Linked DNA regions of Homo sapiens. The protein of the gene in region 1 binds, or shares a complex with, the protein of each later gene. Each region holds a gene or a part of one and is shown in the gene's direction. Other genes may lie near its edges.

Region 1 (6,418 bases):
ATCGCGCCACTGCACTCCACCCAGACTCTGTCTCAAAAAAAAAAAAAAAGTGGGTTTTTTTTTTCTGGAAGGAAATAGAACATATTCTCTAATATTCTCTAAGTGGTTTGTGTGCTTTGGCACACAAAAGAATGAAATGACGATGGCCTTTCTCACTGGTTGGTTTGCTGTTCCCGCAGTTAGAAGAGACTGCCCACATAGGGAGAGTGGCACAGAGGAGAGTAACATCAATCAACAGCGAATATGCACTTGATCGCGGTCTAATCAGCACCAGGCACCTCAGGGCAGCAGTATTGTCAGACGCATTGGAACCAGAGGGACTCCATCTTGAATAAGGTCTGGGTAAAATGAGGCTAACACCTACTGGGCTGCATTCCCAGGAGGTTAAGCATTCTTAGTCACAGGACAAGATAGGTCAGCAGGACAAGATAGAGGTCATAAAGACCCTGCTGATAAAACAATGCCATAAAGAAGGCAGCCAAAACCTGCCAAAACCAAGGTGGTGATGAAAGTGACCTCTAGTTGTCCTCACTGCTCACTATACGCTAATTATAATGCATTAGCATACTCAAAGACACTCCCAGCAGCACCACGACAGTTTACAAACGCCATGGCAACATTAGGAAGTTACCCTATATGGTCTAAAAGGGGAGGAACCCTCAGTTAGGGTAAATCCCTGCCCTTTTCCTGGAAAACTCATGAATGATCCACCCCTTGTTTAACATATAATCAAGAAATAACTATACGTGTACTCAGTTGAACATCCCGTGCCACTGCTCTGCCTATGGAGTAGCCATTCTTTTATTCTTTTACTTCTCTAATAAACTTGCTTTCACTTTACTTTATGAACTCGCCCCAAATTCTTTCTTGTGCAGGATCCAGAACCTTCTCTTGGGGTCTGGATTGGGACACCTTTCCTGTAACAGTATTAGTCATAACTATTATCTGAAAAAGTATATTTATATGGTACTTTACAAATTCAATTTTGCACAATAGACTCTGACTTATGTCATTCTCACAATCACCCCATAATGTCAATCCTCCCATTTCACAATAAAGAAATTGAGGCTCAGGCTGGAGACGGTGGCCCACACTTATAATCCCAGCACTTTGGGAGGCTGAGGCAATGGGATCATTTGAGGATCGGAGTTTGAAACCAGCATGGGCAACATGGTGAGATTCCAGTTCTACAAAAAAAAAAAATGTTTTTGGCCGGGCGCGGTGGCTCACACCTGTAATCCCAGCACTTTGGGAGGCCGAGGCGGGTGGATCACGAGGTCAGGAGATCGAGACCATCCTGGCTAACATGGTGAAACCCCGTCTCTACTAAAAATACAGAAAACTAGCCGGGCATGGTGGCGGGCACCTGTAGTCCCAGCTACGCAGGAGGCTGAGGTAGGAGAATGGCATGAACCCGGGACGCGGAGCTTGCAGTGAGCCAAGATTGCACCACCACACTCCAGCCTGGGCAACAGAGCGAGACTCCATCTCAAAAAAAAAAAATTGTTTTTAATTAGTTGGGCTTGGTGGGGCGATTCTAGTCCCAGGTACAAGGGACACTGAGGCAGGAGGATTGCTTGAGCCCAGGAGTTTGGGGCTGCTGCAGTGAGCCGAGATCACACCATTGCACTTTAGCCTGAGTGACAGAATGAGACCCTGTCTCAAAAAAAAAAAAAAGAAAAGAAGAAGAAGAAGAAGAAATTGAGGCTCAAGGAGGTTAGGGTGAATTGCTCAAAGCCATTCTGATGTGACCGACACCTAGAGTGAACATATGTCCTGATGTGTCCAGGACAGCCTCAGTTTATGCCTGCCTATTGTCCTGGTGTAATTATTAATAGCACCTTTTCACTCCCCGGAGTATCCTGGTTGGATAGTAAATTATATGGTCACTCTACCAAAACCTGTTTCTTTCATTCACTTAAATCCAATCTTTTATTTCATTACTGCCTTATTTCCTCCACTTAGGCAGCTTCAGGATGATTATAACAGCTGAAAAGGCTGGCTTCAGACCATGGTATCACTTCTATGAGAGAGGACATTTCAAGTTGCAAACAAACAATTCAACCAGTGACTTTTAAATTTGAAAACTACCAGTATAGTACGGCAGTGAAGAGATCAGGGTCTGAATCTCCATTAGCATAGACATTATTCAAAATGTCAGGCCTGAGAAGGAGCTAAAAAACGGCCTGTCTTGGGGGAAGAAACGGCAAGAATTTTATCGAACTTCAGCTGGAGTGGGAGAGGGGACTGTCAGCCAGAATGCGGCTAGTTTGGGGAAGAGTTGGTCAAAGAGATTCTTGAAAGAGGGAGGAATTGTTGTTGCAGATGAGCAGCCACTGTTTGGGCACTTTGGATTGATCAGCCTGGACAGGAGGAACAGTTAGGGGCTAAGATCCTGCACAGGAAGAGGTGGAAGGAACAACTACAGGCAAAGGGGACCTGCAGGGGAAAATGTTCCATGTGGAAAATGCTAGGACTTCAGGGTCTCTTAGGTTAGTTAACTCTTCTGAGCCTCATTTTCCTCATCTGTAAAATGAGGATGTTAACAGTTTAAGGTTGATTCTGAGGATGGAATGTACTCAGTACATAAGTGTTCAGCAAACAGTAGTAGCTCTTATTGTTTGAGTCTCTTCCCCGCCTTGTGCCCCTAGTGTAGTAGTAAGGGTACGGATTTTCTTTTTTTTGTTTGTTTTTGTTTTTGTTTTTGGAGGAGTCTCGCTCAGTCGCCCAGGCTGAAGTGCAGTGGCGCGATCTCCGCTCACTGCAAGCTCCGCCTCCCGGGTTCACGTCATTCTCCTGCCTCAGCCTCCCGAGTAGCTGGGACCACAGGCGCCTGCTACCATGCCCACCTATTTTTTTTTGTATTTTTAGTAGAGACGGCGTTTCACCGTGTTAGCCAGGATGGTCTCCATCTCCTGACCTCGTGATCCGCCCGCCTCGGCCTCCCAAAGTGCTGGGATTACAGGCGTGAGCCACCGCCCGGCTGGGTACGGATTTTCTTTACGCTGTATATAAAAGTCTGAGAAACTATCAATTGCTTATAATAAAGAATGAAAACTCCAAAGGCATCTGGGGTGAGGTTGAGGGTCTGCACAGAGATTATGGGGGAAGGGGACGTCCAAAGCTGTCATTGGATTCAGGCACTCAACAGATTGGAACACAGTGTAGAGATTTATGGTAGTGTGAAGGTGCTTTATTTGTTATGAATTACTCAGAGATTTTACTATATTTTAACCTGGGGCGGGGAACCCTTCCTTTTTTTGCCCTTTTGAAAATAAGGTAGATTTCTTCAGATGTGGAAAGTATCAATGGTCAATCCAATAGCTTTTCGTTATTTTATTTTTTTATTTTTGGAGGCAAAGTCTCACTCTGTTACCCTGGCTGGAGTGCAGTAGTGCAATCTGGGCTCATTGCAACATTTGCCTCCTAGGTTCAAGCAAGTCTCCTGCCTCAGCCTCCCGAGTAGCTGGGACTACAGGCGTATGCCACCACGCTTGGCTAATTTTTGTATTTTTAGTAGAGACAGGTTTTGCCATGTTGGCCAGGCTCGTCTCAAACTCCTGACCTCGTGATCCACCTGCCTCGGCCTCCCAGTGCTACCATTACAGGCGGAGCCACCACACCTGGCTCACTTTGTGGCATATTTCTAGAAGTTAAAAAACTCACCTGACAAAAGAGATACTTTGTGGCCAGGCACGGTGGCTCACTCCTGTAATCCCAGCACTTTGGGAGGCTGAAGTGGGTGGATCACTTCACGTCAGGAGTTCGAGACCAGCCTGGCGAAAATGGTAAAACCCCCGTCTCTACTAAAAATACAAAAATTAGCCAGGTGTGGTGGCAGGCACCTGTAATCCCAGCTACTTGGGAGGCTGAGACAGGAGAATTGCTTGAACCTGGGAGGTGGAGGTTTCAGCGAGACGAGATCGTGCCATTGCACTCCAGCCTGGGTGAGGACAGTGAAACTCCATCTCCCAAAAAACAAAAAAAAAAAAAAAAAAGAGAGAGAGAGAGAGAAACTTTATGATTTACTCCATGGAACAAATATCATATAGAACTGTAACATTTAAAAGTCAGATTTCTGTTTCTAAACTTTAGGTTTATACCTCTTGGCAGATGACTAGATGATTCTTTCCCCATTCCAAGAGTAACAGATATTCAGCCAACTTGTGTGTGTGTTTATCACATGTGATTCCACATTTCAGTTTGTTTCTCTATATTTTTTGTATTTTAAATTGGACAAGTATTACTTTTATAATAAGAAAAAAGATAATTACTAAAAATAAATGAGAAATACATATACATGTAGAATTTGCATAGTGTCAAGTAAATGATAAGGGTAGAAAGAGTGCAGAGAAAAAAAGGATGAAAACGAAGGTGGCTGAAGAATGCTTTGTGACGGAGGTGGGATTGAAATGAGCTTTGAAAGGCCGGGTGCAGTGGCTCACACCTGTAATCCCAGTAATTTGGGAGGCTGCGGCGGGCGGATCACCTGAGGTCAGGAGTTTGAGACCAGCCTGGCCAACATGGTGAAACTCCGTCTCTACTAAAAATACAAAAATTAACCAGGTGTGGTGGCAGGCGCCTGTAATCCCAGCTACTCTGGAGGCTGAGGCAGGAGAATCGCTCGAACCTGGGAGGTGGAGGTTGTAGTGAACCGAAATCACGCCACTGCACTCCAGCCTGGGCAACAAAGCGAGACTCCGTCTCAAAAAACAAAACAACAACAAAAAACGAAACACCGAAATGGGCTTTGAAGAATGGAAGGGATGCAGATAAAAGAGAGGAGGGCGCAGAGCGGTTTGGTCGTTCGTTGGACCAGTGTCGGTTCTTCGCTCGCGACTGCGGCTCTTCCTCGGGCAGCGGAAGCAGCGCGGAGGTCGGAGAAGTGGCCTAAAACTTCGGCGTTGGGTGAAAGAAAATGGCCCGAACCAAGCAGACTGCTCGTAAATCCACCGGTGGGAAAGCCCCCCGCAAACAGCTGGCCACGAAAGCTGCCAGGAAAAGCACCCCCTCTACCTGCGGGGTGAAGCCTCATCGCTACAGGCCTGGGACCGTGGCGCTTCGAGAGATTCGTCGTTATCAGAAGTCGACCGAGCTGCTCATCCGGAAGCTGCCCTTCCAGAGGTTGGTGAGGGAGATCGCGCAGGATTTCAACACTGACCTGAGGTTTCAGAGCGCAGCCGTCGGTGCGCTGCAGGAGGCTAGCGAAGCGTACCTGGTGGGTCTGTTGGAAGATACTAACCTGTGTGCCATCCACGCTAAGAGAGTCACCATCATGCCCAAAGACATCCAGTTGGCTCGCCGGATACGGGGAGAGAGAGCTTAAGTGAAGGCAGTTTTTATGGCATTTTGTAGTAAATTCTGTAAAATACTTTGGTTTAATTGGTGACTTTTTTTGTAAGAAATTGTTTATATGTTGCATTTGTACTTAAGTCATTCCATCTTTCACTCAGGATGAATGCGAAAAGTGACTGTTTACAGACCTCAGTGATGTCAGCACTGTTGCTCAGGAGTGACAAGTTGTTAATATGCAAAACGGATGCGTGATATTTCTTGCTTCTCATGATGCATGTTTCTGTATGTTAATGACTTGTTGGGTAGCTATTAAGGTACTAGAATTGATAAATGTGTACAACAGGGTCCTTTTGCAATAAAACTGGTTATGACTTGATCCAAGTGTTTAACAATTGGGGCTGTTAAGTCTGACCATACATCACTGTGATAGAATGTAGGCTTTTTCAAGGGTGAAGATACAAACCTTAACCACAGTGTAACTTATAGTTTCCTTTAAAAAAAAAAAATTAAACCTGGCAGCTATAGAATACAATATGTGCATTTATAATAGCTATTTTATATATTGTAGTGTCAACATTTTCAAATTAAATGTTTTACATTCACAAGTGGTGGGGAGTCTTGTCATTAAGGTGTGTGTAATTTAGAGTCCAGTTGGTTTTCTTCTGACTGCACTTGTTCTCATAGTAGTAAAATGCTATGTGCATTTATACCTTGCATAAATCCTCATTCTACCACATGTTAACTAACCCTCTAGCTGATAATGGAAACACTAACTGGGGGATTTTATTTATAAGGGCTCTAGAAAAAAATATGAGTTATTCACACCAGCATCATCTGTTAACTAATATTCTGAACTAGTGCAGCTTTTCATTGTGTTGTGTGGTTGGTCTCATAACTAGGTTGAGTTTTCTCCTCTGCTAAGAGGAAACAGTACTGAAGTTCTTTTTCTTGTGGCATTTGTATTATAAAAACTTGGTGTAGGGGAGGAGCACAAAGCTCTAGCCCACTGAACCTCTGCCGGTTAAGATGGTGTTAGGTTAGGTTACATCTGGTTACTGTCCTGGGAAAATCATTTTTATAGAGATGGCCTTCCAAGTGGTTTTAAAATTTATCTTATTGAAGT
Region 2 (7,023 bases), on another chromosome or scaffold:
GCTAATTTTTTGTATTTTTAGTAGACACAGGGTTTCACCATGTTGGCCAGGCTGGTCTTGAACCCCCGACCTCAGGTAATCCACTCTCCTCAGCCTCCCAAAGTGCCAGGATTACAGGCGTGAGCCACCGCACCCCGCTGAGAAGATGCCTTTTGACAATGAAGTGGATTTATGTATTTATCTTTGGCTTAAAAAAACATGCACCACCAATTACACTTTCCTCAAGTTTAAATTTTTAATAATTAGGTAAATAAAGCATTTTCTTGTCTTATAGTGTTAGCTAGATTGTTTTTGTGTATTTTGTCATGAATAAAAAGCATAGCTATATAGTTACTGCTTTTACATTAACTATAAATATCTTAAAATTTTACTACCTAAAATCAAGAAACTTGAACTGAAGCTATTAATCTTAGAGTTGGAAAAGTAAATACATAGAGGTTTCCTATTGTACAAATGTCAAGTGGCACAGTGAAATTTACATTCATTTGAAAGTTTTCCTTAACTGTAAAAAGTATCAAATTATTTGATAATTTGGAGTAGTTCATCATCTTTATCAGAGGCACAGGTCTTAACCATTGGCAGGCCTCTGTCAGAATATGCACATATTAAAGATCTCATTATTTTTGTGTTAATGTTAAAAAATTTTTCTGAAGCTTTTTTCTTATTTTTTCCATCCTTACACTGTAAATTCACATTACCAAGTTGGGAAGCCAAAGAAACATTCTACTCTACTATGTTTCTTACCAGTTCATGAAAGTTGATGTTAGAAATGGGTGTGGGTGTGGGGGATGGGGGTGGTTGTACAGAAGCAGCAGGTGGTAGGTATAGGATTTCTGAAGCACTATCCTTGGCCTTTTTTGAGTAAACTCTTTATACCCTGAACCACTTTCTTTTCAGAGGGCAATTGCTATTATTAGAGAGCCACCTTAAGCATTATTGTTGTAGAAAAATTAGGCACAACCAGTGATTGTCATTACAAGGACCAGCAAAAATGGCTAGGTTGCTACTCTGTATTTGTAACGCCCTTCCCCCAACAAAATTTCTCCTTTTCATAGCTGTGAATTTGAAATAAGTGATAGAAAACTGTACTGCATTACAATATATACCATTTAATAAAACAAGTTTATAGTTGAGAGACAGCACTATTATTCATGCTTTTTGAGATAATGCAAATTTGTAATTTTTATGACAGCAATTCTTAATAATTTATTGTCCAAGAGATCTGATAAAATTTTTGATATTATTGGTCTCTGGGACTCAATAGGCACTGAAATGTTTTAATTCAGTTGAAAAGTTGACTCAGGATTGCTACCCTCTCTTACCTGTTAGGAGGTTGTTGTTTAACCTGACCTGAAATTCCCATGAATAAGAACCTGTTTTTTTTCTTTTTTTTTTTTTTTGACAGAGTCTTGCTCTGCCGCCCAGGCTGGAGTGCAGTGGTGCGATCTTGGCTCGCTGCAACTTCCGCCTCCCAGGTTCAAGTGATTCTCCTGTCTCAGCCTCCCAAGTAGCTGGAGTAGCTGGGACTGCAGGCACGTACTACCATGCCTGACTAATTTTTGTATTTTTAGTAGAGACGGGGTTTCACCCTGTTAGCCAGGATGGTCTCAATCTCTTGACCTCATGATCTGCCTGCCTGGGCCTCCCAAAGTGCTGGGATTACAGACATGAAACACCGCACCTGGCCCAGGGAATTTCTAATATTTGAGAAGATGTTATTTTTAGTCTATTATACAAATTTATATATTGTTTACTAATATATAAATTTACATATTAGTTACTAATATGTAAACTTACCAATTTACATATTGGTTACTAATATGTAAACTTGATAAACATGGATTTCCATGGAAATATAAAAGTATCACAACAATTTGTTTTCCCATTCTGACACTTGTGATTTATTACATTTTCGTACTATTTCAGTTAATTCCATAATGCCAGAATTGTTGTTAATCTGCCAAGTGACAAGCCACACTGCTTCATCTCATTCCTCTGTTCCGCAAAACTGCAAAGTTTCCCAGACCACAGTCAGGTTTCTCTGGGTAGATAGTGGTTGTCCAACTCTGTAAACTTAAGTCACTTTAAGTTTATGATGGAGGGGCTTCGTGAAACTTCATTGACCTTCCAAGGTGAAAATTGGTCAGTTTCCAGTTATAAAGGACATTAAGGATGGGTGTGGTGGCTGATATATGTAATCCCAGCACTTTTGGGAGACTGAGTCAGGAGGATCACTTAATCCTCATTTAAAAGGAGTTTGAGACCAGCCTGGGCAACAAAGTGAGGCCTTGTCTCTACAAAAAAATTAGCTGGGTGTGGTGGTAGGCACCTGTAGTCCCAACTACTCTGGAGACTGAGCTGAGAGAAGATTGTGTGAGGCTTGGAGGTTGAGGCTGCAGTGAACGGACATCACACCACTACACTCTAGTCAGGTGACAGAGCAAGACTCTCTAAATAAATAGGAACATTAGATGGTCTCTCTGCACTCTTGCCTGGTGGGGACGTGTTAGATACCCTCGTTAGGTTGTGATTTAGTTTTTAATCTGTGAGATGTTTGGGCCAAACAACTTTTAGCTGCCATGGAATAAACTTTACAGTCAGCGTGTGAGTTTGTGTTTGCCTTTACTTTTTTTTTTCTATATTGTTTTGGTCCATTTTTATCTTTTAATTTCAGAAAGCTGATTAATCTCTTCCTTTTCTCTTTAAAAATTTTCTTTATCATGTTTGTGCTACAGTGGTTATTTTGAGAACTTGTTGGCAGGATAAGTGGCAAAAGTTACGAAGTAGAATAGAGATGATTTCTGTTTTTTTTTTTTTTTCTTTTTTTTGAGACAGTCTCACTCTCTTGCCTAGGCTGGAGTGCAGTGGCGTGATCCTGGCTCACTGTGGCTGCCGCCCTCCGGATTCAAGCGATTCGCCTGACTCAGCCTCCCAAAAAGCTGGGATTACAGGCGCATGCCACCACACCCAGCTAATTTTTGTGTTTTTAGTAGAGATGGGTGTTCACCATGTTGGCCAGGCTGGTCTCAGACTCCTGACCTCAGGTGATCTGCCTGCCTCGGCACTCCCAAAGTGCTGGGATTACAGACGTGAGCCACCACGCCCGGCTGAGATTATTTCTTTTTTTATTATAGCTATTGCTTGTAGATATATGCTGGTGGTTATCTGTGAAAATGTAATAGAAAGGCTGGGCACGGTGGCTCACACCTGTAATCCCAGCACTTTGGGAGGCTGAGGTGGGCGGATCACAAGGTCAGGAGTGGGAGACCAGCCTGGCCAATATGGTGAAACCCCGTCTCTACCAAAAATACAAAAATTAGCTGGGCGTGGTGGCAGGCACCTATAGTCCCAGTGACTCGGGAGGCTGAGGCAGGAGAATCGCTTGAACCCAGGAGGCAGAGGTTGCAGTGAGCTGAGATCATGCTATTGCACACCAGCCTGGGCGACAGAGTGAGACTCTGTCTCAAAAAGAAAAAAAAAAAAGTAATAGACCAATCTTGGATTTATAATTGGAAGTGTTGATCCCTTTATTTGCAGAATTTGAAGGACTTAAGAGCACAAGTTGAGAGAAACAAATGACACAGCTCTTTTTGCACTTTGTAATATTCTAGAAAAAGCCTCAGGTAAAAGGAAAATTGTTTCACTTTGTTTCTGCTGTTAATTTTGTGATGGCAGTAACTACATATGATCTACAAGTGTAAAATTGTTTAACAAGTCTTAAGTTTTCTATACTTCTATGTAACTTTTTAGATCTTTCATTTGGTACATGTTATTTAAAGAGCTACAAAGTGCTAAATATGTCCTGGGATGAACAGTCAACCCTGGAAGATTTATTGTGGCCTAGAGGGGTGCTCAAAGATTTGGAGGAAGTAGTATTTGAATTAGACCTTGAAGGATTGGTGGGATTTAGCCAAGTAGAATGACAAGAAAATGAGTGTGTGAGGGAGCAATGTGAATGAAATTATTGAGGGAAGGAGGTGTAAAAGGTGGGGTGGCTTCTGACTGTGTGACTAGAACAGAGGCTGTGTGTAGTGGTGAGGCCAAGCTGTGATAGTTCTTGAATGCCAGACTCATGAGTTTGGGCTTTATCCTGTAGTCCAGGAGTTATAAACTGTTTACAGGGAGCAGGTAAGCAATTTAAATGAACAGTAGGCTGCTTCTAAGAATCTGAATGACAACTGACACTTTAGACCTTGGGTTGGGGAGAAAATGGGAAATAATAACAGCCTTGGGGAAGTCTAGGAGTCCTTATGCCCTGCTTAAGGTGAAACTGATACAGAATTCTGGCTGATGGTTGCTATTTGAGATGCTGTTTCTAGATTTTTCAAGAGGGCGGAAATTTGGATTTTTATGATTTTTTTTTTTCTTTTTTGAGATGGAGTTTTACTCTTGTTGCCCAGGCTAGAGTGCAATGGTGTGATCTCGGCTCACTGCAACCTCTGCCTCCCGGGTACAAGTGATTCTCCTTCCTTAGCCTCCTGAGTAGCCAGGATTACAGGCACCCACCACCATGCCCGGCTAGTTTTTTTTTTTTTTTTTTTTTTTGTATTTTTAGTAGAGACGGGGTTTCACCATGTTGGCCAGGCTGGTCTCGAACTCCTGACCTCAGGTGATCCACCTGCCTCAGCCTCCCAAAATGATGGGATTACAGGCATGAGCCACCGCACCCAGCCCTTTTTATGATTTTTAAACTTGGATTTTAAGTGTTTTTCATTAATTAGAATCTAAAACGGTATTTGCGCCTATACTTTGTAGGCTAGGTTTAATCTGCGGACCACCAGGGGACTACAGGTCTCAATCTCTGCTTTATGCCCAGTTATTTTATTTTTTAAATGAAAGTTTTCAAAGCAGGTATTTACAGTATTCTTGAGGATAGGAACCTTACTAAATTACTTTGTATTCTGTTTAGCATTTATGCATTTGAATGTAGGCACTCAAATACTTGGTGATTTAATGATGCCTATTATTAAAAAAACACTGTGGTAATAATATGGAGACAGGAGTTACCTGGAGGCAGAGATAATAGGCTGTTACAATAGTTGTAGTGTGAGAGATCAAGCCAAAGCATAGAATGTTGGTAGTGCGAATGGGGAGGAAGATTCCAGTCACTGCAAAGGAGGAATTCGGCAGTTTCTGGCATAGATGTTGTAGCAGGCATCCAAATAGATTGGATGCCTGCTAAGCATTCGGGGAAGTAGGACTGGAGTTGAGGAATCGATTAGGATAAGTATTTAAAGATGTGACTTAACATGTAATCACTGAGAATATGGCGTATGGGAATTAGTAAAGGATTAGGATGCTTTGTTGCCCTTAGGAGATAGGGGACCAGTTATACCCGGAAAAACAAGAAAGGAAATCAGAATATATTCTCATGACAAATGGACAACATATACATACAAGATGCTCATGGCAGCAGTATTAGTAGTAGAGAAAAGTTGGCAACAACAAAATATGCATCAATGGACTACCATGCAGTTTTAAATCAAGACATAGAGATAGATCTGTGGGCCCTGAAGTGGGAGAATGTCTATGATACATTGTTGAACTAGAGAAAAACCTTTCCAAAAGTTGTAAAGCAGTAAGTTTAGCAGTAACTTTATTTTGTGAAAAGCACATAAACCCAAACTGTGTGTATATTTTGTGCATATAAAAAGATTGGGAAGAATACATAATAAATATTAATACTCTGGGGGCCGGGCGCAGTGGCTAACGCCTGTAATCCCAGCACTTTGGGAGGCCAGGAGGGTGAGTCACGAGGTCAGGAGTTCAAGACCAGCCTGGCCAAGATGGTGAAACCCCGTCTCTACTAAAACTACAAAAATTAGCCAGTCATGGTGGCAGGCGCCTGTAATCCCAGCTACTCGGGAGGCTGAGGCAGGAGAATTGCTTGAACCTGGGTGGCAGAGTTTGCAGTGAGCTGAAATCGTGCCATTGCACTCCAGCCTGGGCGACAGAGTGAGACTCTGTCTCAAAAACAAAACAAAACAAAACAAAAAAAAACTCTGGGGAGTATATTCTTTCAGTATACATTTATGCATTTAAAAAAAGAAAAAAGCTTAATACTTCAGAAATGGTAAATCATTTGACAAATGAGAAAACCAAATTCTGGGGGCATCACTGATTATAGAGCCTAGACCTTCTGGATTCAAGTCTAGGTTGTACTACATATTAGCTGTTTGACCTTGGGCAAGTTACTTAAATTTTTTGTGCTATGGTTGCCTCACCTGTAGAGAGGACGTAATAATACACCTAATTTAGGATTGTTATGAATTTATATATATGTGTAGAATTTAGAACAGTTTCTGGCATAGACTAAGTCCTATTAAGAGGTGCTGTTGTAAGGATTTAACTACTGTTGTTACTGTCATTGCCACTAATCATCAATTATCAATCAGTTGCCTGTTATAAACTATTTAGAGACAGAAGTGATTAGAAACCAAACTCACTCCAAAAATGCCATGATATAAGGCTGGGTATGTTGGCTCACACCTGTAATCCCAGTGCTTTGGGAAGCAAAGGTGGGAGGATTGCTTAAGTCTAGGCGTTAGAGACCAGCCTGGGCAACATAGTGAGATCCCCATCTCTACAAAAAATTAAAAATAGCTGGATGCGGTGGTATGCACTTGTAGCTCCAGTTACTTGGGAGGCTGAGATGGGAGGATTGCTTGAGCCCAGGAGTTGGAGGCTACAGTGAGCTGTGATCATGCCACTGCACTCCAGCCTGGGTGACAGAGCGAGACCCTATCTCCCAAAAAAAAAAAAAAAAAAAAAAACTATGACATAAAATAATGCAGTTGTTATTGGAGGCGGGGATAGTGGGGTGGCAAAGATTTTCTTTGTACGCAGATGTCCCCAATATATAGAAGAAAGATTTTTAAAAAGCTAGGTCAGCAGAAATCTCTATGAAATGTTTTTCATTATGAGCAATACACGAAAAACAGTCAAAGCAATTCCCTAGGAGTTGTATATGTAGTAATATTATTCCAAAGTTTTTTATTGCTCAAACTTTTAAATGTTGTTAGA
Region 3 (7,783 bases), on another chromosome or scaffold:
TCCTCTCAGCAACTCACTGTTGCGCGACTTAGAACAAGTCACTTAGTCTAGGTCCCAAGCCCCTCTTCTGTAAAGTGAGGATACTGTTACTAAACGTGTTTTGTGAGGGTTGAATGCTTTATGCATGGAAGAAACCCTTTAAGTCACTCTCAAAATTTTTTAGTAATGGTAACATGTGCTTGCTTTCATTTCTGTTGTGCTGGAAAATGGAAAAGGTTGATACTGGCATGCCTCTTCTTTTCCTTCTCCCAAGCCATTTCCTTCTAGAGATTGGTTATTAACTGTTTCATTTATTGATGGTTAGATCATTTCTGCATATCTCCTCACCCTCATACTCCCTAAAACCTTTTCCTGGAGCCTCTTACTACAGAATTTTTCATTGCCTTTCTCAACCTCTTTTCTCTTATCAGCCCACAGAATTCTTCCAGTCCCTGGGTGGGGACGGAGAAAGGAACGTTCAGATTGAGATGGCCCATGGCACCACCACGCTCGCCTTCAAGTTCCAGCATGGAGTGATTGCAGCAGTGGATTCTCGGGCCTCAGCTGGGTCCTACATTAGTGAGTGTATACGCTCCAGCAGGCAGAATCTGGGGAGCTGGGCTCTCCTTTCCACAGGAGGCCAACTCTGCAACAAAGTGGAAGTGGATATTGATTTAGGACACACTGGGGGATCTATGGGGTCATCCCTTCTCTCCCAAAGCTCCATCTTCTTCCAGGTGCCTTACGGGTGAACAAGGTGATTGAGATTAACCCTTACCTGCTTGGCACCATGTCTGGCTGTGCAGCAGACTGTCAGTACTGGGAGCGCCTGCTGGCCAAGGAATGCAGGTAAGCGAGGCCTCTCATCTTCCTTTCTTAGCCTAGTGGTTAATCCCTGGATCTCTCAGATCATTGCTCCTTACTCTTGTCCTATGTGGTCCATCTTAGTGCTAATAGTATATTTCACAAAACAGCTTTTTGGTGATAAGACCCTTCTCCCAAATCTCAGCCTGTGCTCCACTCATAAGCCAGATAGTACGTCAGGTATTTAGCACTGACACATCCACCCTGGCGGGACAGTATCATTTACTAGGCTGCCTTTGTATGTTTCAGATACTTTAAATTCCAAATCTTTCTCTGATCTTTAGATCCTACAAAATAATTCCTTTCCAATGCTTATCTCTTTAATCATTTCCTGCCCCATCAAGTTGGAAAGAGCTAACCTCTCTTTCCTCACTCCACCTTGTCCTCACCCAGGCTGTACTATCTGCGAAATGGAGAACGTATTTCAGTGTCGGCAGCCTCCAAGCTGCTGTCCAACATGATGTGCCAGTACCGGGGCATGGGCCTCTCTATGGGCAGTATGATCTGTGGCTGGGATAAGAAGGTGGGTGCTCTCCATTCTTCATGTTCCCCCACCATGTTCCCTATGGATGACAGATCTGTTTCCCATCATATACTCCTACTCCCTCCCTGACAAGATGCATGGCATATAGAGTGCTTGGTTATAGAACTGTTTCAGTATATCCATGGACTATTTATTGGCCCAGATATGAATCATTGCATGTGTTTTGTAAGCTTGTCCCTTTTGTTAAACAGTTGATTTCAAGTTTGTTTTTCCTTTTTCATTTCTAAAGTTCGATGACTTTACCAAAGTGGTTTCCTAATTCCAATGTTCTTGTGGTAATATTAATTCTTTTGTTCACTTTTTATGTCTCATATTTGAACCCCCATGTTACCAACATCTTCCTCTCCAATTTCAGCCTGAAATCTTTCATCTTATAGGGTCCTGGACTCTACTACGTGGATGAACATGGGACTCGGCTCTCAGGAAATATGTTCTCCACGGGTAGTGGGAACACTTATGCCTACGGGGTCATGGACAGTGGCTATCGGCCTAATCTTAGCCCTGAAGAGGCCTATGACCTTGGCCGCAGGGCTATTGCTTATGCCACTCACAGAGACAGCTATTCTGGAGGCGTTGTCAATAGTAAGAGACCAATGCTCCCACCACCATGCCTGGGAGGAGTCGGCGGGTGGTGGGGGGGGTGATTTAAGATTGAGAAACCAGCCTGGCCAACATGGCGAAACCCCGTCTCTACTAAAACTACAAAAATTAGCCGGACGTGGTGACGGGTGCCTGTAGTCCCAGCTACTTGGGAGGCTGAGGCAGGAGAATCACTTGAACCTGGGAGGTGGAGCTTGCAGTGAGCCAAGATGGCGCCACTGCATTCCAGTCTGGGCCACAGAGTGAGACTCCTTCTCAAAAGAAAAAAAAGAAAATGATTGAGAGACTCAAAGGAGGGAGAGTAGTAGGGAGGAAATTTTCAGAGTCAGAAGAAGGGCATTAAAGGCCCAGTCATATGGTTTTAAGCTTGCGCATGTGTCTTGTTGCTGCCTTCAACATAACATCAGTGACAGGAACTTGCTGAGGTGAAAGGTGACTCCATGTTCTTTTCTCATTTGTCCACAGTGTACCACATGAAGGAAGATGGTTGGGTGAAAGTAGAAAGTACAGATGTCAGTGACCTGCTGCACCAGTACCGGGAAGCCAATCAATAATGGTGGTGGTGGCAGCTGGGCAGGTCTCCTCTGGGAGGTCTTGGCCGACTCAGGGACCTAAGCCACGTTAAGTCCAAGGAGAAGAAGAGGCCTAGCCTGAGCCAAAGAGAGAGTACGGGCTCAGCAGCCAGAGGAGGCCGGTGAAGTGCATCTTCTGCGTGTTCTCTATTTGAACAAGCATTTCCCCCAGGGAAGTTTCTGGGTGCCCCACTAAGTAGAATAAAGAAAAACGGTTATAAATACCTCTGTCTTGTGGCTGAATGGGGTTGGGCCTGTGGTTGTTGGGTGGGGCAGAAAGTAAAGAGACGCTTTTTCTGGAGAAGGGGCTCAGACCCCTATCTAAGAAATGTGGCCTCACCACATAGTTCTTCCTGGGGTTTCCTTCCACACTCATCTCTCCAAGACCTCAGGAAGGCTGCTCATTGCTGTCCATGGACACTTGTTTGCAATTTCACATAGGTTAGGGTCCTTTCCATAGAGAGGCACCTGGGGACTCCTGTGTGTTCCATTGTTAATGGTTTGAGGAACAGGGAGTAGGGCACCTAGGATAACTGTTTTTGACTTTATAGAGTAGGATGAAAAAGCTTCCACTTCACTTTAATATGGTAATCATATAAACACCATACCATTTATCCCAAATAACACTTTGGAGATATTGGATATTGAATATAAAGACAGACATTAAGGGTCTAATTTCATGATGTGTCATGCTGAATTGCAAGATGGCAGGACTATAATTTTAGAGGAAGAAGAGATCAGGAGGACTCCCCTAAGTGAGGAGTGTGGGGAAAATGTAAAAGATCCAGGTTAGAAGAAAGAGACACACATCATGAGATTTTCGGAATCATGCTGGAACTATGGACCATGTCACTTTCCAGAAAATAAAGGAAACAAATGCTTGAAAGTAGGAGCATGAGCTTGAGCATGGAGCTTTTTTCATTAGAGAGAGATTCTTAAAATGCCAGAATGAATAGAGTTGTAAAACTTTAGCGAGCCCCTACTTAAAATCCCTCCTCCCCACCACCACTATTTTAAACTTTAAGTGACTCCTTGGTAGTCACACAGGTAACATTTCAAAATGGTGATCTGGAATCCAAGCGACCCTTCCTTTGGGGAATTTGTTTGTTTGTTTGTTTTTAGTTTGGGAGGTGGTTTCAATCTGAAGAGTCCTTTCTGGAATAAACGAATCTTTCTGTTGCATAGGAAGGCTCTGGGTCAGGAAGGATATTTAAAAACCTAATTACTGTTCTAAACAGTGTTAAAATAGAACAAGAACCAAAGCTCAGTACGGGGCATTTCCCTCATAGGCTGAAGGTGCGCCCAACATAATTTGGAGTACAGACTCAGAGGCACCTGAACACGCGCCAGCTCAAGGTGCTCCGGCTGAGAAGGACGGATGAAGATGAACGCTCAGGGCCTACTAAATTCAAAGTCTGTACGTGAAAATCCCCTTTGGCCTGGTGAGATTGGTTGGAACCTTCTATTTAGGAGAGCCCGGCTCGCTCGCCTAAAACTGGAGCTTGCATGGAAGAGGGCACTTTTTTTTTTTTTAGACGAAGTCTCACTCTTGTCGCCCAGGCTGGAGTGCAATGACCCGATCTCGGCTCACTGAAACCTCTGCCTCCTGAGTTCAAGCGATTCCCCTGCCTCAGCCTCCCGAGTAGCTGGGATTACAGGCGTCCGCCACCACGCCCTGGCTAATTTTTGTATTTTTAGTAGAGACAGGGTTTCACCATGTTGGCCAGGCTGGTCTCGAACCCCTGACCTCAGGCGATCCGCCCGCCTCGGCCTCCCAAAGTGCTGTGATTACAGGCGTGAGCCACCGCGCCGGACCAGAAAGAAGGCACTTCTTAATAGTAGGCTCAGAGCTTGAAGTAGTAACTTTGAGAAAATTCAGTGATTCTCCAATTACAAAGCATTCTCCAATTACAAAGCAAGGACAACAGATAAAGTTGCCCTTGAGACAACTGTATTTTACTTAATGATAAAGAAACATTTTTGCAGTTTTATATCCCAGAGTAACCGCCACTAAAGGCGAGTGAGACTCATTGCAGGCCTGTACAGTGCGAACCAGAGTTCGGGCTCCAGTTCCGCTGTCTGCGGGTCTCGCGCGCCCCCTCCCGGCGGCCCAGCCCAGAATGAAGGCCTTGGCTGGGGAAGCGAAAGCGAAAGCTGCCCGAGCCCTGACGCCCGCCCTGGCCGAGCGTAGCTGGCGGACCAGAGCCGGTAGCGAGGTTGGGAGAGACGGAGCGGACCTCAGCGCTGAAGCAGAAGTCCCCGGAGCTGCGGTCTCCCCGCCGCGGCTGGTGAGTTGGTGCGGAGGGGAACCTGGAGCGCCAACAGGGACGCAGCCCAAGTGACTACCCACTCCACGCTCCTGCTTCCCAGTCCCTCTGCACCCGGCGATAGGAGGGAGCGGAGCCCGGACCACTTAGCTCGCCGCGGCAGGCGGGGGTGGGGGTGGGGGTCCGGGGATTTTTTTTTTTTTTTTTTAAGCACGAGGCTCCTGATGGTCATGCTTCCAGCTCCCCAGAAGGCCGAAAGCTGTCTGTCGTAGGAGGGGTGTACGGATGAGCACCGGTTACTCAGGAGAGCTCTCAGGGTTGAATAGGATAAAATGAGAAGCCGATGGACGGGTTAGGCGGAGCCGGGCGGGTAGGAGGGCAGGGACAAGGATTGGGACTCCACCCCCATGATTTCTCATCTCGTATCCGTTGACAGAGCCATGCGGCTCCCTGACCTGAGACCCTGGACCTCCCTGCTGCTGGTGGACGCGGCTTTACTGTGGCTGCTTCAGGGCCCTCTGGGGACTTTGCTTCCTCAAGGGCTGCCAGGACTATGGCTGGAGGGGACCCTGCGGCTGGGAGGGCTGTGGGGGCTGCTAAAGCTAAGAGGGCTGCTGGGATTTGTGGGGACACTGCTGCTCCCGCTCTGTCTGGCCACCCCCCTGACTGTCTCCCTGAGAGCCCTGGTCGCGGGGGCCTCACGTGCTCCCCCAGCCAGAGTCGCTTCAGCCCCTTGGAGCTGGCTGCTGGTGGGGTACGGGGCTGCGGGGCTCAGCTGGTCACTGTGGGCTGTTCTGAGCCCTCCTGGAGCCCAGGAGAAGGAGCAGGACCAGGTGAACAACAAAGTCTTGATGTGGAGGCTGCTGAAGCTCTCCAGGCCGGACCTGCCTCTCCTCGTTGCCGCCTTCTTCTTCCTTGTCCTTGCTGTTTTGGGTGAGTCAGGAGAGGACGTTGTGAGTTGGAGGTGGTAAAAGGGCCTGGGCACCAGCACATTCTTGTGTTATTTTTCATGCCTCTTTCAGGTGAGACATTAATCCCTCACTATTCTGGTCGTGTGATTGACATCCTGGGAGGTGATTTTGACCCCCATGCCTTTGCCAGTGCCATCTTCTTCATGTGCCTCTTCTCCTTTGGCAGGTAGGTGGTGGGCAGCTGGGTCCATTTGCTAGCCCCAAATCTTTATAGGGGTCTTCACTTCCCTAACTCCATTTCTAGGCCCTTTCAGGCGCAAAACACAAAAATACTTAAACTAAAATATGGTGAATGTAGTCACCATTCTGTTTCATCTATCCATTCATTTCTTCCTTCGTTCATATTCATCCAATATCTTCAAAGTTTATCTGATCTTATTATAGGAACAAGTTATGAGTGAAGGTAGTACAAAAGGAATTTAAGTCTCAGATGGAATGTCTCTCAGTTGTCTCTCAACATTCCTAGGTCCATGAAATTCCATTTCTTTCTGCCTCCTACCTCCTACCCCTAAGTCTGTCTCCAAAGTATCTCTCCAGGGTCACTCCCTCAGGATGGGTATGCTTCTCCCTTTCACTCTTCTTTCCCAGCTCATCTTGCCAGTCCCTGAAGATCTTACTCTGAGGCTTATCACCTTTCTTTCCAGAATCATTACTCTTTTCCCTTCACTTGCTTTCCTTTCTCTTTCTAGACATACTCAAACAAACAAACTGTTTGATAAGGCTGGGACTGGGATGAGGTGAGCGAGGCACCTGGGGTGCAAAGTTTAAGGAGGTGTGCACTCACCTTACCCAAATCCCAGCCGGCCTGATTGTCTCTATTTTTATGGTCATACTTAATTTAGAGTACCCTCGAAAACCATTTCATTGTGCCTTCATTCCATCCTGGCTGCTTTCTGCTGAAACTACAGTCGTGCACTGCATAACGAAGTTTAGGTCAATGATGGGCCACATATAAGATGGTGGACCCACAAGATTATAATACCATATTTTTACTGTACCTTTTCTATGTTTAGATACACAAATACTTACTTCTGTGTTACAGTCGCCCACAGTGTTAGGTGCAGTTATATGTTGTACAGATTTGTAGCCTAGGAGCAATAGGCTAAACTACATGGCCTAGGTGTGCAGTAGGCTATGACATCTAGGTTTGTGTAAGTACACTCTATGATGTTCATACAACGATGAAACCATCTAACGACACATTTCTCAGAACACATCCCTGTCATTAAAGTACAAACCCTCATTATATCATGTCTGACTCTCCCAAACGCCTCTTCAATATGGTAACTAAATTTGTATTAGAAACATATATTTTGTAAAATACATGCTTTTATGCTTTATATTTTTTCCTCTAAGTGTTACTGTAGCATGTAGTTGGTCTAAGAGGGATTTTCCAACTCGAAGGATGAAAGATGGGAATCACATGACTCTGGGGCTCCAGAGAATTGTGGGGGCAGGGAATTTATTATTGCAGTTCCCATGATGAAGTATCTATGATGACAGAGAAGGGCTTTGGGTATGGGGCAGGAAGGAGACCAAGGCGGAGGAGACGCACAGAGGGACAAGCCTGAGGGACGCTGGGACAGAAGCAAGCACTGGGATACTTGTTTTCACAATATCTTTTCCCTTCTATTGTAGTTTTCTATTGTGTCTAGTACAGAGTGCACTCCATAAATACTTGTAAATTTGTACATGTTATGATTTTGTTCTCACATCTAGCTCACCATGTCTCCTCTTTCTTCTTCCTCTGTGTATTCCTTACCTCTTCTCTCTCTGTGTGTCTGTCTCTCATTTCTTTCTCTTTTGCCCCTCCTGGCATGCTTTCCCCTGACTTTGCGCTTCTCTGCACTCCTGGCTTGCTCCTCTGTTTCACCCGCTGGCTTGCTCCTTCTCTGCATCTCCCTCCCCTCTTATTCTCCTACCCCACAGCTCACTGTCTGCAGGCTGCCGAGGAGGCTGCTTCACCTACACCATGTCTCGAATCAA

Evidence for each region.
Region 2: the proteins of H3-5 (region 1) and KMT2C are in contact, whole or in part, in a crystal structure (PDB 7W6L), measured with the Homo sapiens proteins. Residues at the interface, in NP_001013721.2 of Homo sapiens: Ala2 (codon at 4,922), Arg3 (codon at 4,925), Thr4 (codon at 4,928), Lys5 (codon at 4,931), Gln6 (codon at 4,934), Thr7 (codon at 4,937), Ala8 (codon at 4,940); in NP_733751.2 of Homo sapiens: Tyr4800, Ala4810, Asn4811, Glu4814, Val4824, Tyr4825, Met4826, Phe4827, Arg4828, Val4834, Arg4845, Ala4857, Glu4858, Val4859, Ile4868, Tyr4884, Asp4885, Tyr4886, Lys4887, Phe4888, Asp4889, Glu4891, Ile4897.
Region 3: the proteins of H3-5 (region 1) and TAP2 are in contact, whole or in part, in a cryo-EM structure (PDB 8T4F), measured with the Homo sapiens proteins. Residues at the interface, in NP_001013721.2 of Homo sapiens: Arg52 (codon at 5,072), Arg53 (codon at 5,075), Thr58 (codon at 5,090), Glu59 (codon at 5,093), Leu60 (codon at 5,096); in NP_001276972.1 of Homo sapiens: Arg210 (codon at 7,746), Gly211 (codon at 7,749), Phe214 (codon at 7,758), Thr215, Met218, Pro265, Leu266, Asn269, Val270, Arg273, Arg373, Leu377, Arg381.

The regions. Positions count from the first base shown.
Region 1 is NC_000012.12:31,790,667-31,797,084, reverse strand, and holds H3-5 (histone H3.3C), read left to right. Parts: upstream 1-4,786; 5' UTR 4,787-4,918; coding exon 4,919-5,326; 3' UTR 5,327-5,900; downstream 5,901-6,418. UniProt on the Homo sapiens protein: Core component of nucleosome. Nucleosomes wrap and compact DNA into chromatin, limiting DNA accessibility to the cellular machineries which require DNA as a template.
Region 2 is NC_000007.14:152,425,981-152,433,003, reverse strand, and holds part of KMT2C (histone-lysine N-methyltransferase 2C), read left to right. Parts: intron 1-7,023. UniProt on the Homo sapiens protein: Histone methyltransferase that catalyzes methyl group transfer from S-adenosyl-L-methionine to the epsilon-amino group of 'Lys-4' of histone H3 (H3K4).
Region 3 is NC_000006.12:32,835,717-32,843,499, reverse strand, and holds the start of TAP2 (antigen peptide transporter 2), read left to right. Parts: upstream 1-4,760; 5' UTR 4,761-4,847; intron 4,848-5,262; 5' UTR 5,263-5,266; coding exon 5,267-5,759; intron 5,760-5,848; coding exon 5,849-5,963; intron 5,964-7,726; coding exon 7,727-7,783. Other genes in the region: PSMB8 (proteasome subunit beta type-8 isoform E2 precursor), read left to right, coding at 411-558, 717-828, 1,237-1,366, 1,765-1,969, 2,453-2,541. UniProt on the Homo sapiens protein: ABC transporter associated with antigen processing. In complex with TAP1 mediates unidirectional translocation of peptide antigens from cytosol to endoplasmic reticulum (ER) for loading onto MHC class I (MHCI) molecules.